Homo sapiens: one gene and its partner. The protein of the gene in region 1 interacts with the protein of each later gene in a pairwise test. Each region holds a gene or a part of one and is shown in the gene's direction. Other genes may lie near its edges.

The links. Proteins that work in one complex are often made in the same cells at the same time.
Region 2: the proteins of THAP4 (region 1) and AMD1 interact in binary tests that used the Homo sapiens proteins (3 or more experiments, as listed by UniProt).

The regions. Positions count from the first base shown.
Region 1 is NC_000002.12:241,630,659-241,634,158, reverse strand, and holds part of THAP4 (peroxynitrite isomerase THAP4), read left to right. Parts: intron 1-79; coding exon 80-1,242; intron 1,243-3,500. UniProt on the Homo sapiens protein: Heme-binding protein able to scavenge peroxynitrite and to protect free L-tyrosine against peroxynitrite-mediated nitration, by acting as a peroxynitrite isomerase that converts peroxynitrite to nitrate.
Region 2 is NC_000006.12:110,888,285-110,891,784, forward strand, and holds part of AMD1 (S-adenosylmethionine decarboxylase proenzyme), read left to right. Parts: intron 1-51; exon of another isoform or gene 52-122; intron 123-572; coding exon 573-699; intron 700-1,969; coding exon 1,970-2,072; intron 2,073-3,500.

The DNA.
Region 1 (3,500 bases):
TTGTTTTGCTTTTACAGTTGATTATTTTAAGGGGAGACATTTAATTATTTCTAATTACTTTTTGTCATTTGTCCTGTAGGTTCCCCCTAAAGGACTCAAAACGTCTAATCCAATGGTTAAAAGCTGTTCAGAGGGATAACTGGACTCCCACTAAGTATTCATTTCTCTGTAGTGAGCATTTCACCAAAGACAGCTTCTCCAAGAGGCTGGAGGACCAGCATCGCCTGCTGAAGCCCACGGCCGTGCCATCCATCTTCCACCTGACCGAGAAGAAGAGGGGGGCTGGAGGCCATGGCCGCACCCGGAGAAAAGATGCCAGCAAGGCCACAGGGGGTGTGAGGGGACACTCGAGTGCCGCCACCAGCAGAGGAGCTGCAGGTTGGTCACCGTCCTCGAGTGGAAACCCGATGGCCAAGCCAGAGTCCCGCAGGTTGAAGCAAGCTGCTCTGCAAGGTGAAGCCACACCCAGGGCGGCCCAGGAGGCCGCCAGCCAGGAGCAGGCCCAGCAAGCTCTGGAACGGACTCCAGGAGATGGACTGGCCACCATGGTGGCAGGCAGTCAGGGAAAAGCAGAAGCGTCTGCCACAGATGCTGGCGATGAGAGCGCCACTTCCTCCATCGAAGGGGGCGTGACAGATAAGAGTGGCATTTCTATGGATGACTTTACGCCCCCAGGATCTGGGGCGTGCAAATTTATCGGCTCACTTCATTCGTACAGTTTCTCCTCTAAGCACACCCGAGAAAGGCCATCTGTCCCCCGAGAGCCCATTGACCGCAAGAGGCTGAAGAAAGATGTGGAACCAAGCTGCAGTGGGAGCAGCCTGGGACCCGACAAGGGCCTGGCCCAGAGCCCTCCCAGCTCATCACTTACCGCGACACCGCAGAAGCCTTCCCAGAGCCCCTCTGCCCCTCCTGCCGACGTCACCCCAAAGCCAGCCACGGAAGCCGTGCAGAGCGAGCACAGCGACGCCAGCCCCATGTCCATCAACGAGGTCATCCTGTCGGCGTCAGGGGCCTGCAAGCTCATCGACTCACTGCACTCCTACTGCTTCTCCTCCCGGCAGAACAAGAGCCAGGTGTGCTGCCTGCGGGAGCAGGTGGAGAAGAAGAACGGCGAGCTGAAGAGCCTGCGGCAGAGGGTCAGCCGCTCCGACAGCCAGGTGCGGAAGCTACAGGAGAAGCTGGATGAGCTGAGGAGAGTGAGCGTCCCCTATCCAAGTAGCCTGCTGTCGCCCAGCCGCGGTCAGTACCGGAGCCTCGCGTACCCATGTTCCCTTCCCGTTAGGAGGGGTTTCTCTGCAAGGTGGCCAGCGTCCCCTGAGCATTTCTGGGAGGTGTCACAAGCTCCCTGCGCTCTCAGGAGGAAGCTCTGGTCGTAACCATACCTTGTGGATGAGGGAATCCAGGTTAGAAAGCAGGCCTCACTGCACCTGGTCCCACAAGAGGCATCTGTGTGTGTAGGGATGTAGGCCGTGAAGGAGGCAGGCAGCACGCGTCAGCCAGGAGTGCCTGAACGCCTCCGTGGAGAGTGCACAGGGAAAGATAGCTTCTGTTTCATACCTTATGCAACAGAAATTCCAGATGAGTTAGGAACTAGATGGAAAATAAGAGAGTAAACTCTCAGAAAAAGCAAATATCAGAAACTGTTAAAATCATGAGGAGGTTCTTTCTGTTCACGTTTTAAGGAATATCCTTGAAGTTAAATCATCATGAACATTAATAATTATTTTAACATCTATTCAATTAAAACATCTGTTGAGGCTGGACTCGGTGGCTCACACCTGTAATCCCAGTACTTTGGGAGGCTAAGGTGGGCAGATCACTTGAGGTCAGGAGTTCGAGACCACCCTGGCCAATATGGTGAAACATACAAAAACATACTACTAAAACATACAAAAACTAGCTGCACATGGTGGTGCACGCTTGTAATCCCAGTTATTGGGGAGGCTGGGGCAGGTGGATTGCTTGAACCTGGGAGGCAGAGGTTGCTGTGAGCCAGGATTGCACCACTTCACTCTGGCCTGGGTGACAGAATAAGACTCTGTCTCCAAAAAAAAAAGACACACATCTATTGAAACACATTCTCAGCCGGGCATGGTGGCACACTCCTGTAATGCCAGCTACTCAGGAGGCTGAGGCAGGAGAATAGCTTGAACCTGGGAGGCGGAGGTTGCAGTGAGCTGAGATGGCACCACTGCACTACTCTTTGTCAGCCTGCGTGACAAAGAGCACAACTCTGTCTCAAAAGAGAAAAAAAAAAAAAAAGAAATACAATACATTCTCTGTTGCAAAAATTAAAACTGCAGAAATAGACTAAGAAGTGGTAAAAAAATTATTGTTTGTCATCCACCTCCCAAGTTCTATTCCTTGTTGTTATTAAAAATTTGGTGTGTAAGCCAGGCACAGTAGCTCTTGCCTGTAATCTCAGCACTTCGGGAGGCCGAAGAGGGAAGGTTACTTGAGTCCAGAAGTTCAAACCAGCCTGGGCAACATAGGGAGACCCCATCTCTATAAATAATTTAAAAATTAGCCGAGTACCATGGTGCACGCCTGTGGTCCCAACTACTTGGGAGACTGAGGCAGAAGGATAGCTTGAGCCTGGGAGGTCGAGGCTGTAGTGAGCTGTGATTGCACCACTGTACTCCAGCCTAGGTGACAGTGAGACCCTGTCTCAAAAAACAAAATTTCCTGTGTAATCTTTGTATGTATATTAGCTCTATTTCTGTTTTTTCCCATATTTTACTGTTAAGTATTTCTTAAAATTGGTTTCTAGATGTTTACATATGGCGGATGGTTTCCTTTGCCTGTCGTGTACATAGGAAAACCATATTCCTACCACATTGTTGATTTCATCTGGATCAATGCTTGTCAATAAGTATATGATAGTGGGACAAGATTTTCAGGACCTCCTGGATCCTCAGGGTAACAGCTATTAGCACAACCGAAAACAAAGCCCATCCGACATGTTCTCCAGATGTGTCCTGGGGAGGAACGGTGCCACTGAGTACTGCTGACCTAGATTTTCAGATCAAATCTAGATTTTCGGATTCTTGGGTTGAAATTGTATACTGTTTTTCTCTTGGAATTTTATTTTATTTTTTGAGATGGCATCTCACTCTGTTGCCGAGGTTGGAGTGCAGTGGTGAGATCTCAGCTAACTGCAACCTCTGCCTCCCGGGTTCAAGCAGTTCTCCAACCTCTGCCTCCTGGGTTCAAGCAATTCTCCTACCTCAGCCTCCCAAGGAGCTAGGATTACAGGCCCCTATCACCACACCTGGCTAATTCTTATATTTTTAGTACAGATGATGTTTCACCATGTTGGCTACAGTTGTGAGCCACCACACCAGGCCTTCTCTCGGAATTTTTTTTTTTTTTTTTTGAGACGGAGTTTTGCTCTTGTTGCCCAGGCTGGAGTGCAATGGTGCAATCTTGGCTCACCGCAACCTCCACCTCCCGGGTTCAAGCAATTCTCTTGCCTCAGCCTCCCGAGTAGCTGGGAT
Region 2 (3,500 bases), on another chromosome or scaffold:
TGCTGGGGGATACTGGACTAAACAGCCCCTCCCCCCCTTTTTTTTTCTGAGGCGGAGTCTCAGTCTGTCCAGGCTGGAGTGCATTGGCGCAATCTCCTCTCACTGCAACCTCTGCCGCCCAGGTTCAAGCGATTTTCTTGCCTCAGCCTCCCAAGTAGCTGGTATTACAGGCGCCTGCCACTGTGCCCGGCTAATTTTTGTATTTTTAGTAGAGACGGGGTTTCATCATCTTGGCCAGGCTGGTCTTGAACTCCTGACGTGGTGATCCACCTCGGCCGCCTAAAGTGCTGGGATTACAGGTGTGAGCCACTGTGCCTGGCCTCTCTCTTTTTTTTTTTTAAACTAAGTTTATATTATGAATATACGAATGTTTATCAAAATGCTTACCATGTGCCAAGCCCTGGGGATGTTTTGTATACTAGAAAAGGAAAAGAATAATGTGTTACTTGCTTCCTTGAGATCCTAATATTTAAAAGTACTAGCCAAAATTGTAAATGATAATTAAATTGGTTGATTGCACCCTCAGTAGTACATTAGTATTGTTATAATATTGTGACTTTTTTCAACTGCAGTGAGAGTAGCATGTTTGTCTCCAAGAGACGTTTCATTTTGAAGACATGTGGTACCACCCTCTTGCTGAAAGCACTGGTTCCCCTGTTGAAGCTTGCTAGGGATTACAGTGGGTTTGACTCAATTCAAGTAAGTAAGCAAACATTTAAATATTTTTCAGGCATAAATGTTAGCGTTCTTATCCTGTAATATGCGAAGTAAATAAATTTATATACTTACTGCCTTTGTTACAATGCATGCAAACACGTGGTAAGGTGTTCATACCTTAGGAAGAGATCTGATTCTCAAGAACAGCAGAAAATAGGAAGCAGAGAATGAGTTAGGATGAAATTCAAATGGGAGAAAGAAATGAAGAAGCCAGACACTTCCAGTAGTTAATTTCTTAACATGGCTACTTATAATAATAGAGAAATGGTAAGAAAAGAAGGAAAAGCAAGAAAAATGTCGTTACTGAAATTGTCCAGTCTTTATAATGAAGAGTTAGGATGAAGAGCAACAGTCAGTATTGAGTTAAATTCTTATACTTTTCAAGAACTAAGGTGTTTTTACCTAGGGTATAATTTTCTGATTAGCAGTTGTTACATTTTATTTATTTTTTATTTTTTTGAGATGGAGTTTCGCTCTTGTTTCCCAGGCTGGAATGCAATAGCACGATCTCAGCTCACTGCAATCTGCACCTCCCAGGTTCAAGTGATTCTCCTGCCTCAGCCTCCCAAGTAGCTGGGATCACAGGTGCCCACCACCATGCCTGGCTAATTTTTTTTGTATTTTTAGTAGAGACGGTGTTTCACCATGTTGGCCAGGCTGGTCTCTTAACTCCTGACCTCAGGTGTTCCACCCACCTCAGTCTCCTAAAGTGCTGGGATTGCAGGCGTGAGCCACTGCACCCGGCCTGAATTTTAATCTTTAACTTCATAAGGAAAGGATGGATTGTCATTAGTACTCAATACAGTTTTTGTTGTTATGAATTGATCCTTGTAAGAAATCTAAAGCAATGTGTGCTTAACCGATGCTTAAAACTAATATGTTATTCCCCCCAAATTTTTGCTTATATGACTATTAATAAGCTCAGTTTAGAAACTACTGTTCTAGAAAGGAATATACTTGGTGTTAATAGTTGTTATGACCCATCATCACTAGACTGGGCTTTTTAAAAAAAAGAGAGAGAGAGAGAGATGGGGCCTCAGTATGTTGCCCAGGCTGGACTCCTGGGCCAAGTGATCCTCCTGCCTCCTAATAGCGAGACTACAGGCATATGCTACCATGCCAAGCTAAAATATTTGAGTTTTGATTTTGCCGAGTTTTTGATATGTGGACAATAGTTGATTAGCTTCGAAAAGTGATAGAATTCTACATCTAAAGTCATCTTTTTTTTTCTTTCTTTTCTTTTTTAATAAAGAGCTTCTTTTATTCTCGTAAGAATTTCATGAAGCCTTCTCACCAAGGGTACCCACACCGGAATTTCCAGGAAGAAATAGAGTTTCTTAATGCAATTTTCCCAAGTAAGTTTAAATAAAATATAAACCTGTTGTCTTCTTAAAGATAGAAAGTGCAACCTCAGAGATCTTTCTATATGAGAGCATACTTATGCATATATAGCATTCTACACACACTAATACTTGCTTTTCTTGTGGGTTTTTTGGTTTGTTTTAGACAGGGGTCTCATTCTGTCACCCATGCTGGTGCAGTGGTGTGATCACAGCTCACTGCAGCCTCAACATCCCAGGCTTAAGTGATCCTCCCACCTTAGCCTCCCAAGTAGCTGGGGCTACAGATGTTTGCCACCCCACCTGGCTAATTTTTTTTTAATTTTTAGTAAAGACAAGGTTTTGCCATATTGCCCAGGCCGGTCTTGAACGCCTGGGCTCAAGGGATCCACCTGCCTTGGCCTCCCAAAGTGCTAGGATTACAAGTGTGAGTTACTGCACCTGGTCCATATTTACTTTGACTTAGATGTTTTGGGAGTACAGTAGTGATCTTTATATAGCTTGTAATTCAAAATATGCAGAATTTATAAAGAACATTAAAATATCAGATAAAATATTTTTAGTTAAGATTAATAGCTTATTGCAAATTATGTATACACATGTAAAAATAATTGTGTATCATAAATCAGTGCTGTTTAAATGATGGAATTTTAAAATGTAGAATTGATCACCTGCCACCTCTGATTTTTCATACAGCATAGAGAGAGTTCATCTTCATCTGGCCATTCACTCTACTTTATGTCTCACTCAGTGGTTCTTTTTGCGTTTTTGTTTGAGACAAGTTTCACTTTGTCTCCCAGGCTGGAGAGCAGTGGCATCATTATAGCTCACTGCATTGTCAAACTCTTGAGTTCAAGCACCCAGCTAATTTTTATTTTATTTTTAGTAGAGATGGAATCTTGCTGTGTTGCCCAGGCTGGTCTTGAACTCCTGCCCTCTAGCAGTCCTCCAGCCTCAGTGGTTCTTAACATACAGATCATAATGTCCTTTGACAATATGAAGAAGGATATGATTCCCTTCAGAAAAATGCCTAGTGCTCTGCTCCAGCATTTTATATAATAATTGACCTGGCTTTTTAAAATTGCACAGTGTAAATTAGTGTTTCTTGAATGAAATTCGTAAGGGTTTCTTTCATCCATTTACTAAGCTTTTATTTATAGAGGTCAGGGAACAAAGGTTATCTGATAACATCCTTACTTCCTAGATAAGGCTGAAAACCTAAGATAATTTAGTAACTTTGCACAAAGTCGCTCATAAGCATGAAAATTGAACTTAGCACATCTACTAATATGAAACCAAACCAGGCTAATCAGAGTGTTGGGTATTTACTGCAAATACCCGCCAAGTCAGTCGATCCTGCTTATCTGGGAATTTACCTACTGTTTCCATTCCTTTCACTGATGACATTTCTTTTTTCTTGAGATGGCGTCTCGCTTTGTCACC